Homo sapiens: one gene and its partners. Changing the gene in region 2 together with the main gene of any one other region gives a genetic interaction. Each region holds a gene or a part of one and is shown on either strand. Other genes may lie near its edges. The genes, in order: RTF1, CCNK, NAA25, LIAS and FDPS.

Region 1 (3,518 bases), on a different chromosome or scaffold from region 2:
CATCTGAGGTCGGGAGTTTGAGACCAGACTGACCAACATGGAGAAACCCCATCTCTAATAAAAATGTAAAATTAGCCGGGAGTGGTGGCGCGTGCCTGTCATCCCAGCTACTCGGGAGGCTAAGGCAGGAGAATCACTTGAACCTAGAGGCGGAGGCTACAGTGAGCCCAGCGTGCCATTGCTCTCCAGCCTGGGTGACAGAGCAAGACTCCATCTTGGGTGGGGGCTGGGTGGGGAGGGAGCTCCCATGGGACTCACTCTTTGAAAAGAGTGAAATTAACAAGCGAATTACATCAAGCTAGATGCAACATGACACAAATTAAAGTTTTCACAAATTAACACTGACACTTCTCACAAACTCTTCCTACACTTCAAAATTTGCCTCTGATTAATGCGGAAAACACTACATTAACAAGAAGCACAACTTTTAAATTTCTCAAGATTTATGGGGAAGGTTTATAGAAGTATACTTTATAATAATAATATTCTTTACATGTAGTATCTAAAAACAGCTCCTAGAAAATACTTACAGGGCTGGCCGGGCACGGTGGTTCACGCCTGTAATCCCAACACTTTGGGAGGCCGAGGAGGGTGGATCACGAGGTCAGGAGTTCAAGACCAGCCTGGCCAAGATGGTGAAACCCCGTCTCTACTAAAAATACAAAAATTAGCTGGACGTGGTGGCGTGCGCCTGTAATCCAAGCTACTCGGAAGGCTGAGGCAGAGAATTGTTTGAACCCGGGAGGCGGAGGCTGCAGGAGCCAAGATCGCGCCACTGCACTCCAGCCTGGGTGACAGAGCGAGACTCCGTCTCAAAAAAAAGAAAAAAGAAAATACTTAGGGGGGCCTATTCTCTCAAAGACAAATTTAATTATTGCTACTTCAAGTTAGATAAACAGAGAAAAACAGGACATGACAATATAATCTCCATTTTAAATAAGAAACCTATAAAATAAAGCATCCCAGTGTGCACATAGCTCAATTTTTAGTTTTTTAGAAAGGTAGAGTAAAATTTTTATAAATACGGAGTTGTACTGATTTGAATTGAGAACTCTGGTTCCTTTATTATCTTGAATGCTTTTCATTTTATAGGACTTACTGCATAAATATTATTCCATAAAGGGAGATGACATAGAGCCCAGAGGTTTGCCTCAAATTATTATTTCCCAATAGGCACCAACAGCAAGTATCTTGAAATTTAAAAATGTTGAAGAAAGGGTGTGGTCAAAATAAGGACAGAGTCACTATCAGGTCAAATGCTAAAAGAAAAGCTTTCAAACTCTCAAACTAGGTCTTAGTTTTAAAAACTTTCAAAGGTTAAAATAAGGCCAGGTGCTGGATCACCTGAGGCCAGGAGTTAGAGACCAGTCTGGCCAACATAGCGTCTCTACTGAAAATACAAAAAATTAGCCAGGTGTGGTGGCAGGCGCCTGTAATCTCAGCTACCCAGGAGGCTGAGGCAGGAGAATTGCTTGAACCCAGGAGGTGGAAGGTGCAGTGAGTCGAGATCGTGCTATTGTACTCCAGTCTGGGCGATAGAGTGAGACTCCATCTCAAAAATAAATAAATAAACAAACAAACAAATAAATAAATAAGGCCTGGTGTGGCAGCTCACACCTGTAATTCCAGCACTTTGGGAGGCCAAAGCCTGAGAATCACCCAAGCCCAGGAGTTTCAGACTAGCCTAGGCAATGTAGTGGGACCCCCATCTCTACAAATGATTTTAAAAATTAGCTGGGTGTGGTGGTGCACACCTGTAGTCCCAGCTACTTGAGAGGCTGAGGGGGAAGGATCACTGAGCTAGGGAGGTCAACGCTACAGCCGTGAGCTGTAATTGTGCCACTGCACTCCAGCCTGGGTGACAGGAGTGAAACCCTGCCTAAAAAAAAAAAAAAAAAGAACCAGTAGTTTTGCCATCTTAAAACCTCCCTGTCAAGTTCTTTTAGTTATACAAGTGCCTTTTTTTTTTTTTTCTTTGGGACAGGGTCTCACTCTGTTACCTGGGCTGAAGAGAAACGGTGGGACCACAAGTAACTGCAACTTCAACCTCCCAGGCTCAAGCAATCCTCCCACCCCAGACTCCCAAGTAGCTGAGACTAGAGGCACGCCACCATGCCCAGCTAATTTTTAAATTCTTTTTTTTTTTTTTTTAATACAGAGTTTCACTCTTGTTTCCCAGGCTGGAGTGCAATGGCACGATCTCGGCTCACCACAGCCTCCACCTCCTGGGTTCAAGTGATTCTCCTGCCTCAGCCTTCTGAGTAACTGGGATTACAGGCAAGCACCACCATGCCTGGCTAATTTTGTATTTTTAGTAGAGACGAGGTTTCTCCATGTTGGTCAGGCTGGTCTCAAACTCCCAACCTCAGGTGATCCGCCCACCTCGGCCTCCCAAAGTGCTGGGATTACAGGTATGAGCCACTGCACCTGGCCAATTTTTAAAGTCTTTGTACAGATGAGGTCTCACTTTGTTGCCTACGCTGATCTCAAACACCTGGGCTCAAGTGTTCCTCCCACTTTGGCCTCCCAAAGTGCTGAGATTACAGGGCATGAGCCACCATGCCCAGCCTATACATGTACGCTTAATTTGGAAGTACTATGGCAGACACAGGAAGCTATTTCTCTTCTAAATACTTATAGTGTGTTACTAAAAAGATTAACCTGCATATAGGCAGTGATCTTAATCACTAACATAAATCATAATTACTTGAGCTATACCTGTTACAAATGCAGAGTCCAGACCTCTATCCCCTGAGAGTCTGATTCAGTAGGTCTAGGATGGGAACTGCTGCACCCTCTAAGTCCCAACCTACATTTTAAATAAGCAACCCAGGTGGCTTCTGACACAGAGGTCTGCCCCTACCACCAGGAAAAACCAGCCTAGAAGGCCCATATATCTCACCTTCAGTAAGGAATAAATTGGAGGTAAAATTTTTGACATAATGGCTCAGATTCCCATCTGAAAAACCCAGGGACAAAAGGCCTCCTTACGAACTGCATTCCAATCCACACTAGATACTCAGTGATCTGTCATGGTTTGTTCCTTCCACAAGTACCATACGCTAGACAGCAAGTCTAATGTTATACCCCCAGTGAAGACTCAGAACCAGATGGAGCAGCACAAGGTATTTGGGGCAGGAAAGATCCAGAATGCATTAGGATTCCTAAAGACCCCCAAGCAGCACTGACAGTGAACTTGTGCTAAAGGTCTTTCGTGAAAATGTCTAGAGGGCAGAGATCTTCCTCTTTGATTATTCTGAGAGTCTGGCATAGTGCTGAACAGACAAACTGAAGGCATCAATACCCCTGTTAGGATGTGCAGGGAAAGGGAATTTTGATCTAGTTCCCATCTGATAACAAGAATGCAAATAAGAAGCTGAAGGGGAGGAAGTTAAATTTGTTGTTAAAATGTATTAGGTATTACACATTTTATGTTAATTTCCTTTTACAAATAGATATTTAGAATTGGATTTAAAATTGCAATTCCGGCCAAGCACGGTGGCTCATGCCTGTAATCC
Region 2 (3,518 bases):
CCAAAGTTTGACAATTTGCTCTGTTGGCAAAGCTATAGAGAAGCAGGTGATCTTATAAGCTTCTGGTGGGAGTACAAAATGGTCCAACTGTCACAGAGAAGTTGACGATATCCAACAAAATTACACATGCATTTGCTCTTTGACCCAGGATTCCCACTGCTGGGAATCGACTCTGAAAATATTGTCCTAACTATGAAATGTCACAACTATGAAACAACATGTGCACAAGATTATTCACTGTAGTGTTATTTATAATGGCAAAACTATGAACAACCCAAACGCCCATCATCAGGGGACTGGCTGAGTAAAATATGACACATGCACACAATAGCATACCCCACAGCTATTAAAAAGAATGAGAAACATCGTTAAGTACTGGATGGAGAAATTTCCAGATCAGCAAGGTATAGGATAGTGTACACAGTATGTTAGCATCTATGTAAGAAAGGAGGGGAAAAAACAGACATCTCTTTTTTTTTTTTTTTTTGAGACGGAGTCTTGCTCTGTTGCCCAGGCTGGAGTGCCAGTGGCATGATCTCGGCTCACTGCAAGCTCCACCTCCTGGGTTTACGCCATTCTCCTGCCTCAGCCTCCCGAGTAGCTGGGACTACAGGCGCCCGCCACCACGCCTGGCTAATTTTTTTGTATTTTTAGTAGAGATGGGGTTTCGCCGTGTTAGCCGGGATGGTCTGGAGCTCCTGACCTCGTGATCCGCCTGCCTCGGCCTCCCAAAGTGCTGGAATTACAGGTGTGAGCCACCGCGCCCAGCCAGACATCTCTATTTTTTTAAAGTAATTCAAAAAATATTTACCAATAAGGAATGGGGAAAAACAGGATGGAAAAGACAGGAATGGAAACAAGACTTCTCTATGTATATATCTTTTTATACAGCTTTGCCTTTTTATGAAAGCTTTTATTTTAAACTAATTGTACGTTTACAGAAGAGCTGTAAAGATAGATGAGTTTTGTCTATACCCTTCACTTAGCTTCCCCAATGTAAACATCTTCCATAACCATGGTTCATTTATCCAAAAAAAGAAATTAACTTTGGTATAACCACTATTAACTACACATCATATTTGGGTGCAGGTGATATCAGAACAACTTACTGCTGTTAACCATGAGCTCTTGGTTAAGATGGAGTCTACCAGGTTTCTCACTGTAAATTATTATTTTTCCCTTCCTATCTTCTATTCCTTAGATGCAAGTCACGAGGTCCAGCCCACACTCAAGGGTAAAGGAATTAAGCTCTACTTTCTGGAGGCAGAGATATCAAAGAAATTGTGGACATATGTTAAAACCACCCACTAGTAAGTAAATATTTTGGGGGAAATATTTTACAATGCAAAATACTATACAAATGTCTATTTCTCCTTCAAGTTTCATCTACTAATTTTAGCATTCACCTGAGACGATTACAACTGTGGTGTTCTAATGGTGACTTTCTATTTCCTTCACTGCTTCAACATTTATTATTTGGAATCATTTTGTTAATATTTGTTTCTTCTCTCCCATTTGTTTATTTACTTTAGTACAGACATGAGTATTTTATTCTTTGGGTTATAATCCAATACTATCATTATTTATTTTGTTGCTCAAATTATTCCAATGTGGCCATTAGGTGCTCTTTCAGCTTGACTCCCTGCAGAGTACTTTTATAACTTTGATGTTTGAATCATGTAAATATTTAACATACTCATACACTTAACTAAAAATAAAAAAGCAAATCCTAAAACTCAAACCAAATGGGCAACAAAATCACACAGAAACTTACTTCCAAGTAATTTCTGATATTGTTACATGCTTAGTGAGATATATTCTAAGGACAAAAATAACTGAAAAGAATTATTTATTTGTTTATTTATTTACTTACTTACTTATTTTAGAGTCAGAGTCTTGTTCTGTCACCCAGGCTATAAGTGCAGTGGCATGATCCTAGTTCACTGCAGCATCGAACTCCTGGCCTCAAGCGATCCTCCCGCCTAGCCTCCCAAAGTGCTAGGATTATGGGTATGAGCCACAGTGGCTGGCCCCAACGAAATTTTAAAACTTCATTAGTGTACTGTTAGTAGTGTCATTAATGTTGTAATTTTCAAACACATTTTTTTTTGCATGTTGTGGAATAAAGCAAATATGTAAATGCTAATGTTGTTAGGAACCAAGATTTTCAGTGCAAAGAAAACAAATGCACACATGCAGAAAACCAAATGTTAAGAAACAAATCTGTAATGTTAAACTTTAACTGAAGATATCAAAATAAATCATGGTTAAAAAAAAATATATATATATGTATCCCATTTCTGTCCTTTTCAAGTACCAAGAAGGAATGACACTCCTAATTCTGAAATCTTAACTTTTTCAATACCAATACCCTCTAAAAGGAAGCAGGTTTCTTTCCAGTCTGGGGTTGGAGCCTGCCTGGGATGTACTCAGACTAATCAAAGCTTATCAAAAGACATAGGACTGCTGAAGGAATGATTTGCTAGGGAAAAAAAAAAAAAAGACATAGGAGCCACCATGATGGGTGCCCACTGGACTAATCCAAGGTAATTTGAATAGCAAAAAGAAAAATAACTGTGGTTGATCATAAAATAGTGAACATACAATCCAAGTGTCCATAATATTAATACATATAGAGAATAATACTTTGCTAGCACTGATAACTACTGATAATAAAATGCTACTGATAATAAATGCGACTTTGCTAGCATGGATATTAACTACTGTAAAAAAAATACAGTTGATCCTTAACAAAATGATCACACTTGACATCACTAATAGGGTGAAAACCTGACATTACATGGCTTCTGATGTGATGCAATGTGAAATAAATATCACCTACCTATGTAGTATTCTTGTCCCCCAAAAGCTTAACCTAAATTTAAGCAAACTTTTGACCGAACTTCCAGTTTACAATAAATACTGGTGGTACAAGAGTAAGTGAAAAAAGCACAACATGGAAACTATCAGTCACATCCAGAAGGTGAGACACTCTACTCAACAACTGACCCGGTCTCTTCAAAACAGTGTTATGAAAAAACATTTTGAGAGACTGTCTTAGATTTAAAAAGGCTAAAGAGGGCTACAACAAAATGCAATGTGTGAACCTTGATTAGATCCTGCTTTTTTTTTTTTTTTAAAAAAAAGAAATTTCAAACAATTTGGAAAAATTTAAGTATAAATTGTATATTAGAGGGTATTAGGGAGGGAATTACTGTCAGTTAATTTTCTTTGGGGGTAATAATGATATTGTGATTACACAGGAGAATGACTTTATTCTTAGCAGATGAAGGCTGAAGTATTTTGGGTAAAGTGTCATGATGTCTGCAACCTACTTTCAAATGGTTCAGCTAAAACACAACCACACAGTAAACATGGCAAAAAACGAACATGTGTCCACAGGTAAATAAGTTGTCATTGCACTATTCTTTCATACAATAAAAAGTTGGGGAAAAAGTCAGATGAGACTGAATAGGAGACCAGGAGGACTCCTTATCTTCATCAATCCCTCGATAGCC
Region 3 (3,518 bases), on a different chromosome or scaffold from region 2:
GATTACAGGCGTGAGCCACTGCGCCCAGCCTACTGCTTCATTTTTAAAATCCAACAGCCTTTCAACAAATGAAGAATTTCTTCAACTTTTGGACCTAACAAGTGATTTTAAATATGGAATGGACTTAAGCTTCTAAAACATTACTTTGTAACCTACGACTGTACCCTCTCATACACTACACCACACATTTGCAGAACAGCTTCCAGCTTCCATGTACTCTAAAATTTTCCAGATGTGAGGTTATAGACATTTTATTACGTGTACTACATTTTCTATGACAAAGACCCTATAAACACACAGTGTACACTTACCTAAACCACTGGTATCCAGCTCATAAATATCATTGACAAGATAAAAAGAGCTTATCTGGCACTGAGAACAGCCAGAATTAAAGAATCCACCCATTCTGGTAGGTACAGGACCAAGGAAAGGATACTGGAAAAAAGGGAGAAAAATAATGCTCTTTTAAATCCATCTAAATGCATACAAAATAAGAAAATCAGGTAACTAGTAGATAAAAACCTGTCTCAGCGGTTCAGCTAAAAGCCACTAATCAGCAAACTAATAACTGAATCATTACAGTAAAAACAGAACATTTATATTAATTTGTTGCTAGCTATTAAAAACTTAACACCACAAAAAGTTATTTTGCTTTCTCCCTCACTAGTCTGGATATTGAGGAAGCCTCTGCAATTCCCTCTGAGTCTAAAATATTCCTCTTTCTCCTGCAGAAGCCATAAACTGGGACAAAACAATTCCTTACTACTCACCCACCCCAAACTCCTGTTTATAAAACAGTCATAAATATAATTATTGCAACTTTGATGGTAAATATGTATTGATGGTACCTGAATATCCTTCTCAATAAATCGCTTTCCTGTCTCCAGGGTTGCCTCCAGCTGTTGAAGGAGCAAACGAAGAATATCAATCCGGGAGGATACCCCATTCTCGGCAGTCTTCTCCGAGTTCTTTGGCTCCACAGGGTGGTTGAGACTTGGAAGTCCACTTATCAGCCTCAATGTTAAGGATCGGATTCTTAACCACAAGGTCTCCTCCTCTAAGGAAAGTTTCTTATGTTCTTCAGAAACGTCCCTTAAACAGAAACATCCCCAAATTATCTAACTTATTCAATATTCAATCCATTGCTTTCAATTTTTTTTTTTTTTTTTGAGACAGAGTCTTGATCTGTCGCCCAGGCTGGAGTGCAGTGGCACTATCTCTGCTCACTGCAAGCTCTGCCTCCCAGGTTCATGCCATTCTCCTGCCTCAGCCTCCCAAGTAGCTGGGCCTACAGGCGCCTGCCACCACGCCCGGCTAATTTTTTTTTTGTATTTTTAGTAGAGACGGGTTTTCACCGTGTTAGCCAGGATGGTCTTGATCTCCTGACCTCGTGATCTGCCTGCCTTGGCCTCCCAAAATGCTGGGATTACAGGCGTCAGCTACCGCGCCTGGCCTCAAATCATTTAAAGTTAACTTTCACCAGTTAAGATGCCTTTGAAGGGTTCCAGCTTTCATTTACTAGCTGAATGACCTAAGACAAGCCAAAATGTTCTCAAACCCCATTTCACTATCAATAAAATGGGAATGATAACCTATTTAACAGGTCATTTTTGGCTGGGCACGGTGCCTCACACCTGTTATCCCAGCACTTTGGAAGGCCGAGGTGGGCAGATCACGAGGTCAGGAGATCGAGATCATCCTGACTAATACGGTGAAACCCCGTCTCTACTAAAAATACAAAAAATTAGCCGGGCGTGGTGGTGGGCGCCTGTAGTCCCAGCTACTCAGGAGGCTGAGACAGGAGAATGGCATGAACCAGGGAGGCGGAGCTTGCAGTGAGCCAAGATTGCACCACTGCACTCCAGCCTGGGCGACAGAGCAAGACTCCATCTCAAAACAAAACAAAACAAAACAAAACAAAAAAAACAGGTCATTTTCCTTATAAGTGACACTTTGTTCTCTGATTATAAAAATAATACATGAGGACAGGTGTGGTGGCTCACACCTGTAATCCCAGCACTTTGGGAAGCTGAGGTGAGAGACTGCTTGAGGCCAGGAGTTGGAGAACAGCCTGGTAAACATAGCAAGACCCAGTCTCTAAAAAAAAAAAAAAAAAAATACAAAAAATTGGCTGGACGTGGTGGCACACACCTGTAGTCCCAGCTACTAGGGAGGCTGAGATTGGAGGATTGCTTGAGCCCAGGAGTTCAAGGCTGCAGTGAGATATGGTCACGCCACTGTACTCCAGCCTGGGTAAGATCCTGTCTCTAATAAAAATAATACACAACATAAAAAATGCAAATGATAGAAAAATGTAAAACGTAGAAAAGGTGCCCTGATAACCAATACTCACAGTATTATCAAGTTTGGTATAGATCTTTTTAGACTTTTGTAATGTGGATGTATAAAAGTCTAACTAAAAATAGCGGGTGTGGCCCGGTGCAGTGGCTAACGCCTGTAATCCCAGCACTTCGGGAGGCCGAGGCAGGCAGATCATGAGGTCAGGAGATCGAGACCATCCTGGCTAACACAGTAAAATCCCATCTCTATTAAAAATACAAAAAAAATTAGCCGGCCGTGGTGGCACACGCCTGTAGTCCCAGCTGAGGCTAAGGCAGGAGAATTGCTTGAACCCGGGAGGCGGAGGTTGCAGTGAGCCGAGATTGCGCCACCGCACTCCAGCCTGGACGACAGAGTGAGACTCCATCACAAAAAAAAAAAAAAAAAAAAAATAGGGGCTGGTTGCGATAGCTCACACCTATAATCACAGCACTTTGAGTGGCCCAGATGGGGGGATCAACAGAGGTCATGAGTTTGAGATCAGCCTGGCCAACATGGCAAAACCCCATCTCTACTAAAAATACAAAAATTAGCCGGGCGTGGTGGCAGGGACCTGTAATCCCAGCTACTTGGGAGGCTGAGGCAGGAGAATCCCTTGAACCCAGGAGGTGGGGGTTGCAGTGAGCCGAGATCATGCGACTGCACTCTAGCCTGGGCGACAGAGACAGACTAGGTCTCAAAAATAAAAAGTAACTAAAAATAATACTTACACAACTTAACAATTTTAAACAAATTGGTTACAGTATGCAACAGAGGCTCCATCTAAAAAAAAAAGTAACTAAAAATAGTATGTATGCAACTTAAGTTTAAACAAATTGGTTACAGTAATTACATTATTTTGCAAACTTCATCTTTTTATGACAGTATGTGTAGAAAAGAGTTAACATAGCAGGCCTGCAGCTATTATCGTTAGAAAGGCCTACTTGCAAGGTTGGCCCTTGGCTGATGTCTGGGAACTTTGCACTCCAACTGTTCCCTAAAATGGTAAGAGTGACTCGCTGTGCCTAGATTGTTTATATAAACCATGTTGTTTATGGTGAATACCTGCTTTCTTTCCACTCAGGATAGACAGAGTGTACCCACATAACAATGAAACCTTAAGCACCAAGTCTCTACTGGGTTTCCCTGAGCAGGAACATTCCACCTGTGTTACTGCATTTTTCCCTGCTGGAGAAAGG
Region 4 (3,518 bases), on a different chromosome or scaffold from region 2:
CTTCACATGTATTTTTAGCTTGCCAGCAGTGCTGCTTGAAGACTAAATCACTTACAATTACTGGTTTTCAAAGTCCCCACATTCTGTCACTCAGTGCTGAATCAAATTCTTGGGTTTTCAAACTATGATGAGCTACTAGTTCATTAAAATGTTTTAAATTACTATTTTTATTTATTTATTTTTGAGACGGGGTCTCATTCTGTCACCCAGGCTGGAGTGCAGTGGCACGATCACAGCTCACTGCAGCCTCAACCTCCTGGGCTCAGGTGATCCTCCCACCTCAACCTCCTGGGTAGCTAGAACTAGAGGTGCCCACCACCACCCAGCAACTCAGCCACCCAGCTAATTTTTGTATTTTTGTAGAGATGGGGTTTTGCCATGTTGCCCAGGCTGGTCTTGAACTCCTGGGCTCAAGTGATCCACCCGCCTCGGCCTCCCAAAGTGCTAGGAGTACAGGCGTGAGCCACTGCACCCGGCCTTAAATGTCTTTATAGGAACTAGGAACATACAGAATATTACTAATACTGGAGCATTAATTTTTTCAAATAGAATTTGTCTAATTTAAACATATTTAAGATTTAGACCCCAATATATAAAGCAATCATTTAAAACATCACCACTTTAGATAAAAAAAAAAAATACCTAGTTTATTTATTTATTTACTTATTTATTTATTTTTGAGACAGAGTCTTGCTCTGTTGCCCAGACTGGAGTGCAGTGGCATGATCTTGGCTCACCACAACCTCTGTCTCTCGGGTTCAAGCAATTTTCCTGCCTCAGCCTCCCAAGTAGCTGGGACTACAGGCACACACCACCATGCCCGGCTAATTTTTGTATATATATTTTTTCTTTTGGAGACAGAGTGTTGCTCTTTCGCCAGGCTGGAGTGGAGTGGCAGGATCTTGGCTCACTGCAACCTCTGCCTCCCAGGTTCAAGCTATTCTCTTGCCTCAGCCTCCCGAGTAGCTGGGACTACAGGTGCGCAGCACCATGCCCAGCTAATTTTTGTATTTTTAGTAGAGATGGGGTTTCACCATGTTGGCCAGGATGATCTCAATCTCTTGACCTTGTGATCTGCCCACCTCGGCCTCCCAAAGTGTTGGGATTTCAGGCATTAGCCACCACGCCTGGCCAATACCTAGTTTATTTTTAAAGAGACAAGGTCAGCCGGGTGCGGTGGCTCACACCTGTAATCCCAGCACTTTGGGAGGCCCAGGTGGGCGGATCACAAGGTCAGGAGATCGAGGTCATCCTGGCTAACACGGTGAAACCCCGTCTCTACTAAAAATACAAAAAATTAGCCAGGCGTGGTGGCGGGCACCTGTAGTCCCAGCTACTCAGGAGGCTGAGGCAGGAGAATGCCGTGAACCTGAGAGGCAGAGGTTGCAGTGAGTCAAGATTGTGCCACTGCACTCCAGCCTGGGCGATGGAGAGAGACTGCATCTAAAAAAAAAATAATAATAATAAAATAAAAAATAAAGAGATGAGATCTCACAATGTTGCTCAGGCTGTATTTGAACTCCTGGGCCCATGCGATCCTCCTGCCTCGGTCTCCCAAGAAGTTGGGACTATAGGCACACACCACCACACCTGGCCTAGCTGTTTCTTTTTTTTATTTTATTTTTGAGACACAGTGTCTTGCTCTGTCACCCAGGCTGGAGCTGTAGTGACACGATCATAGCTCACTGCATCCTTGAACTCCTAGGCTCAAGTAATCCAACTGCCTTCCAAAGTGCTGGGATTACAGGCATGAGCCACCTTGCCTGGCCTATTTATTCTTTTTTTTTTTTTTTTTTTGAGACAGAGTCTTGCTCTGTTGCCCAGGCTGGAGTGCAGTGGCACAATCTCGGCTCACTGCAAGCTCGGCCTCCTGGGTTCATGCCATTCTGCTGCCTCAGCCTCCCGAGTAGCTGGGACTGCAGGTGCCCGCCACCATGCCCGGCTAATTTTTTTGTATTTTTAGTGGAGAGGGTTTCACCGTGTTAGCCAGGATGGTCTCGATCTCCTGACCTCGTGATTTGCCCGCCTCAGCCTCCCAAAGTGCTGGGATTACAGGTGTGAGCCACCCCACCTGGCCAGCCAATTTATTCTTAATCATTATAATTGTTAAGTCCAACTGACAGGGACATCATAAACACTTTCTAGATTAAATTCGGTCTTCAGATATGTTCTTTTGGATCCTCCGACAATCATTATCACATGACTTTTTATCCCTTGGAAAATGATTTTCTTTTCATAAATCAATTCAAGCTATTGATTAAAATAAGAGCTGAAATTCCAAAAGTAAAAAAAATTTGCATTGTAGCTAGTAAAACAACTAAACGTTCCTACGGAGAAAAATAATCTTATGGATATTTTTCTGTTGCCTCTGGGGGAAAAATACAAAGAAATTTAATGATGCAAGCAATGCTATCAAATAAGATACTTTTCAGTGCTTAAACTGATTGAAACTGAGTCTGGAGATGCAGCTGGCATCATTTCCAAATAAATATGTATTTCTCAGAAAACCCTATTAGATGCTTGACATGCTCTGTCATTTCTGAATAACCTACTACTGAAATCTACACATAGAAAAAATTAATAAACTAATTGTTTCTGCTTTTACTATAGTAGCTGAGTTACAAAGCAGGGGGCTGAATTTGTTTAAGAAACAAAAGATTAAGAGAAACTTTTCTTAATATGATCCCCATGGAGCAAAGCTCCTAAGGATGTTCCAGAAGAAAAACTACGCCCTCTACCAAGACCACCAAAGGTATTAGAATTTGTCAAGAGTTTTAGTGACTGGTGGTAGAACTTAATGTGGAAAGTTAACGGCCTAAATGAAACCATGCCCCACAATCTAACTTACCTGCTTTATATGAAGAACGCACCAAAGGGCCACTTGCAGTATAATGAAATCCAAGTTCATTTCCTACTTTTTCCCAGTATTTGAATTTTTCAGGAGTAATATATTCTTCAACCTAGATTTAAATAATTACTTCTGATCAGATTTTAGAATTCCACTTTGATTCTGCAGAAAGTCTATACCTATGTATGCAGAATGCTCTTCACTGCGTAATTTATCTTGCCCCCACCCCCAGGCTTTTGTCCTCTCCCTCCTCCCTGACTACGTGTTTACTGGTTACTTTTTGGCCACTCTATTGGGATGTAAATACAGGGAATTACAGAGACAGGGAAGCATATCAATTTTGTGCTACAATGGCTATTCCAAAGGACAGAGAAAGAAGAGATTATCTACAGATATTATTTATCTATATTTTTCCTTCGTTAACAGCTAAATTCAAGAATTACTCATGCTTATCTGATTCTTGAGGACAAGACTGTCTTACTCAACTTGTATCTTCTGCTTAGCACTGTGACTGGCACATGGTCACTGCTCAACACAAGCTTCTTGAATGAATGGATAAATGTCCATGATAGAAATAGAAAGAATGGTTTCCCATTCTTTCTTCGCCTCTGGCTCTAACATAACAAAAACAAGTTACACAATAACCAAGTGTAAATGAGTGCCATTTCCC
Region 5 (3,518 bases), on a different chromosome or scaffold from region 2:
AGATTTGTACCTGAGTAAGGGGAGAAGAGAAACTCCTCAGGAGGGCAATGCACATCCTGAGCCCTCCCTCGCTGTCCAGACATGGTTCGCGCTGTCCCTCACCTCCCCTCACCTCTTTTCAGTGAATCTGACAAGATCCACATTGCCCTGGGGGGCTGTGAGGAGGTCCAGGGTCTGCCCAATCTCAGTCTGATAGGAACTCTAAGCAAGACAAAGACGGTCCATGAGCCAGGCTTTCTCCAGATATGCGAAACCCTGGTATCCCAAGCCCAACATCCCATACCAGCTGACAACTGGGCAGAATCAGAAAGGCAACAGAAGGGGAGAAAGCCCCAAAACTTAAGGCCCATATTCATACACACAGTCCTTTATCACCCTTTCTTCCAATTACACAGGACAGAGAAGCCCTTTCTTGCCACTACCACAACCCCACTTCCCAACACCCTTCCTCGCTTTCTTTCCCTTCCAGGCACGCTGCAATCCTGTACCCTGAAACCAGCTAGATGAGCATGTCCTATAGAGGCCAAGGCTACCATGGGCACCCTCTGGGCATCGGGCCCTGTCTGCAATACACCTGCAGGAAGAGCTCGATCAGGTTCAGGTAATAGGGCTGCTCCCGGCAATAGAGCTTCAGCAGGCGGTAGATACATGCTTCCAGGAGGTTAGCATCATTGATGGCATCCAAACCCACGCCCGGCTGTCATGACAGACAGAAAAACAAGCAATCAATCTCTAGTCTCGGTTCATACTAAGAGCCATCACCCCAACACCTCAACCAGGCCATATATAACCACCTCCCTGTGGCCTGTCCCCATACCCACTGCTATTTTCCTGCCCACATTACCTTCTGATACCAGCAGATCTGTCCCCGGCGGGTAAGGGATGAATCCATGATGTCATCTGCCACCAGGAAGAAAGCTTGCAGCTAGAAAGAGTGGAATAAGACCTGCAGGGCTCCTCATTACTGTTCCTTCTATCAGCAACAGAGCTGCTACTTTATATCTGTATATAGTTTTGCTTTTTTTTGGTAGGGGACAGAGTCTCACTATTATCCAGTGCAGTGGTGCAGTCACAGCTCACTGTAGCCTCTAACTCCCAGGCTCAAGTGATCCTCCCACTTCAGCTTCCTGAGTTCCTGAGACCATAGGCACATACCCCATGCCTGGCTATTTTTTTTTTTTAATTTATTTTTTGTAGAGACAGGGTCCCACTATGTTGCTCAGGCTGGTTTTGAACCCCTGGGTTCAAATGATCCTCCTGCCTCAGCCTCCCAAATTACTGGGATTACAGGCATGAGGCATCACAGCCGGCCAGAGCTGCTGCCTTTGACAGTCCCTATGAGCTGGGAAAGTCAGGATGGGGAGACAGAAGACTTCTGTGCTATGGAGACTTGGAAAGTGACATAACATGTTTGGCTCAGACTCCCCGCCTATAAAATGGAACTAAAACACTCTTGTTTTAGGTTAAGAAACTAGAACAGATCTTTGACATCTCTAATGAGCCCTAGATTATTCCTGGTGTCAGGGAGATTAGGAAACACCTTCATATACCGTACTCTATTCTTGCCAAAAACCTCAATGAATGCTTAAAGTAAGATCTATTCATGAAACTGACTTCACATTACTTCCTAAATAAAAGAAGGCTATTCCCACATTGCCCCCAGCACTGTGTTTGAACACCCTGGTGACTAGGAACACAGCCTTACCTAAAGCAGCTCCTTAGCAGTGCAGGTCTAATAAGGTGGAACTGAAATCTGACTTTGACCTATGAGTCTCAGACATCTTTAAACATCTTTAAACATTAACTAAGGGCTTACTCTTCTGAGTGCCCATCTGAAGGTACCTGAACGTGTCGGGTTTCCCACTAGACCATGATCTCCTTGGAAGCAGGGACAGTAACTTCCCCCTCTTAGCATTTGCAGAGCCTAGCACAGCATTAGGCCTGGAGTGAGAGTTTCCTAAACACTTGTCTGACAAAGAAATTAATAAAACACTCTAACATTCCCTGTGATACTTCTTGCAGTCAGTCAAACTATGTTTTGGTTCCTTAAATAGCTTTTCTTTTTTTTTTTTTTTGAGATAGAGTCTCACTCTATCACCCAAGCTGGAGTGCAGTGGCGCCATGTGGGTTCACTGTAACCTCCGCCTCCCAAATTCAAGCGATTCTCCTGCCTCAGCCTCCCAAGTAGCTGGGACTACAGGCACCTGCCACCACCAACTGCTAGGCCAGCTAATTTTTGTATTTTCATTCAGTAGAGACTGGGTTTTGCCATGTTGGCCAGGCTGGTCTTGAACTCCTGACCTCAAGTGATCCGCCTGCCTCGGCCTCCCAAAGTGCTGGGATTACAGGCGTGAGCCATCGTGTCTGACCATTAAATAGCTTTTCAAGACATGGTTTGGGTTGCTTTTTTAAAGAGACAAGGGTCTTGTCATGTTGCCCAAGTTGGACTTGAACTCCTGGGCTCAAGTGATCCTCCTGTCTCAACTCTTGAGAATCTAGGGATATAGGCACACACCAGCGCACCCAGCTCAAGACATGGTTTTTATTTTCATAACTTATTTCCTTTTTTTGTTTTTCCACTTCTAGATACATACCCAGGTTTTTGTTTTTGAGATGGAGTTTCACTCTCATTGTCCAGGCTGGAGTGCAATGGCGCAATCTCGGCTCACTGCAACCTCCGCCTCCCGGGTTCACGCGATTCTCCTGCCTCAGCCTCCCAAGTAGCTGGGATTACAGGCACGTGCCATCACACCCGGCTAATTTTTGTGTTTTTAGTAGAGACAAGGTTTCACCATGTTGGTCAGGCTGGTCTCGAACTCCTGACCTCACGTGATCCATCCACCTTGGCCTCCCAAAGTGCTGGGATTTTAAGTGTGAGCCAATGCACCCGGCCCTATACCCAGGTTTTAATTTTTATTATTATTTTCTTTTGAGACAGGATCTCACTCTGTCACCCAGGCTTGAGCAGAAGACATGGTTTGTGTGTTTTTTTTTTTTTGAGATGGAGTTTCGCTCTTGTTGCCCAGGCTGGAGTGCAATAGCGCGATCTTGGCTCACTGCAACCTCCGCCTCCCGGGTTCAAGCGATTTTCCTGCCTCAGCCTCCTGAGTAGCTGGGATTATAGGCATGTGCCTCCACGCCTGGCTAATTTTTTTTTTGTTTTTTGTTTTTTGTTTTTTTTTGAGACAGAGTCTCGCTCTTGTTGCCCAGGCTGGAGTGCAGTGGCACAATCTCAGCTCACTGCAAGCTCCGCCTCCCAGGTTCACGCCATTCTCCTACCTCAGCCTCCCAAATAGCTGGGACTACAGGCGCCTGCCACCATGCCCGGCTAATATTTTTTTTGTATTCTTAGTAGAGACGGGGTTTCACCATGTTAGCCAGGATGGTCTCGATCTCCTGACTTCATGATCCGCCCGCCTCAGCCTCCCAAAGTGCTGGGATTACAGGCATGAGCCACTGCGCCCAGCCTAATTTTGTATTTTCAGTAGAGATGGGGTTTCCCCATGTTGGTCAGGCTG

The links.
Region 1: changes in CCNK (region 2) and RTF1 together harm fitness less than expected from each alone (positive genetic interaction), as found in Homo sapiens cells (one large-scale study listed by BioGRID).
Region 3: changes in CCNK (region 2) and NAA25 together harm fitness less than expected from each alone (positive genetic interaction), as found in Homo sapiens cells (one large-scale study listed by BioGRID).
Region 4: changes in CCNK (region 2) and LIAS together harm fitness less than expected from each alone (positive genetic interaction), as found in Homo sapiens cells (one large-scale study listed by BioGRID).
Region 5: changes in CCNK (region 2) and FDPS together harm fitness more than expected from each alone (negative genetic interaction), as found in Homo sapiens cells (one large-scale study listed by BioGRID).

What each region holds. Positions count from the first base shown.
Region 1 is NC_000015.10:41,420,090-41,423,607, reverse strand, and holds part of RTF1 (RNA polymerase-associated protein RTF1 homolog), read right to left. Parts: intron 1-3,518. UniProt on the Homo sapiens protein: Component of the PAF1 complex (PAF1C) which has multiple functions during transcription by RNA polymerase II and is implicated in regulation of development and maintenance of embryonic stem cell pluripotency.
Region 2 is NC_000014.9:99,487,898-99,491,415, reverse strand, and holds part of CCNK (cyclin-K), read right to left. Parts: intron 1-3,518. UniProt on the Homo sapiens protein: Regulatory subunit of cyclin-dependent kinases that mediates activation of target kinases.
Region 3 is NC_000012.12:112,042,777-112,046,294, forward strand, and holds part of NAA25 (N-alpha-acetyltransferase 25, NatB auxiliary subunit), read right to left. Parts: exon of another isoform or gene 1,877-3,518; intron 1,093-1,876; coding exon 849-1,092; intron 436-848; coding exon 312-435; intron 1-311. UniProt on the Homo sapiens protein: Non-catalytic subunit of the NatB complex which catalyzes acetylation of the N-terminal methionine residues of peptides beginning with Met-Asp, Met-Glu, Met-Asn and Met-Gln. May play a role in normal cell-cycle progression.
Region 4 is NC_000004.12:39,472,542-39,476,059, reverse strand, and holds part of LIAS (lipoyl synthase, mitochondrial isoform 1 precursor), read right to left. Parts: intron 2,961-3,518; coding exon 2,849-2,960; intron 1-2,848. UniProt on the Homo sapiens protein: Catalyzes the radical-mediated insertion of two sulfur atoms into the C-6 and C-8 positions of the octanoyl moiety bound to the lipoyl domains of lipoate-dependent enzymes, thereby converting the octanoylated domains into lipoylated derivatives.
Region 5 is NC_000001.11:155,315,348-155,318,865, reverse strand, and holds part of FDPS (farnesyl pyrophosphate synthase), read right to left. Parts: intron 2,013-3,518; exon of another isoform or gene 926-2,012; coding exon 845-925; intron 698-844; coding exon 575-697; exon of another isoform or gene 470-574; intron 202-469; coding exon 113-201; intron 11-112; coding exon 1-10. UniProt on the Homo sapiens protein: Key enzyme in isoprenoid biosynthesis which catalyzes the formation of farnesyl diphosphate (FPP), a precursor for several classes of essential metabolites including sterols, dolichols, carotenoids, and ubiquinones.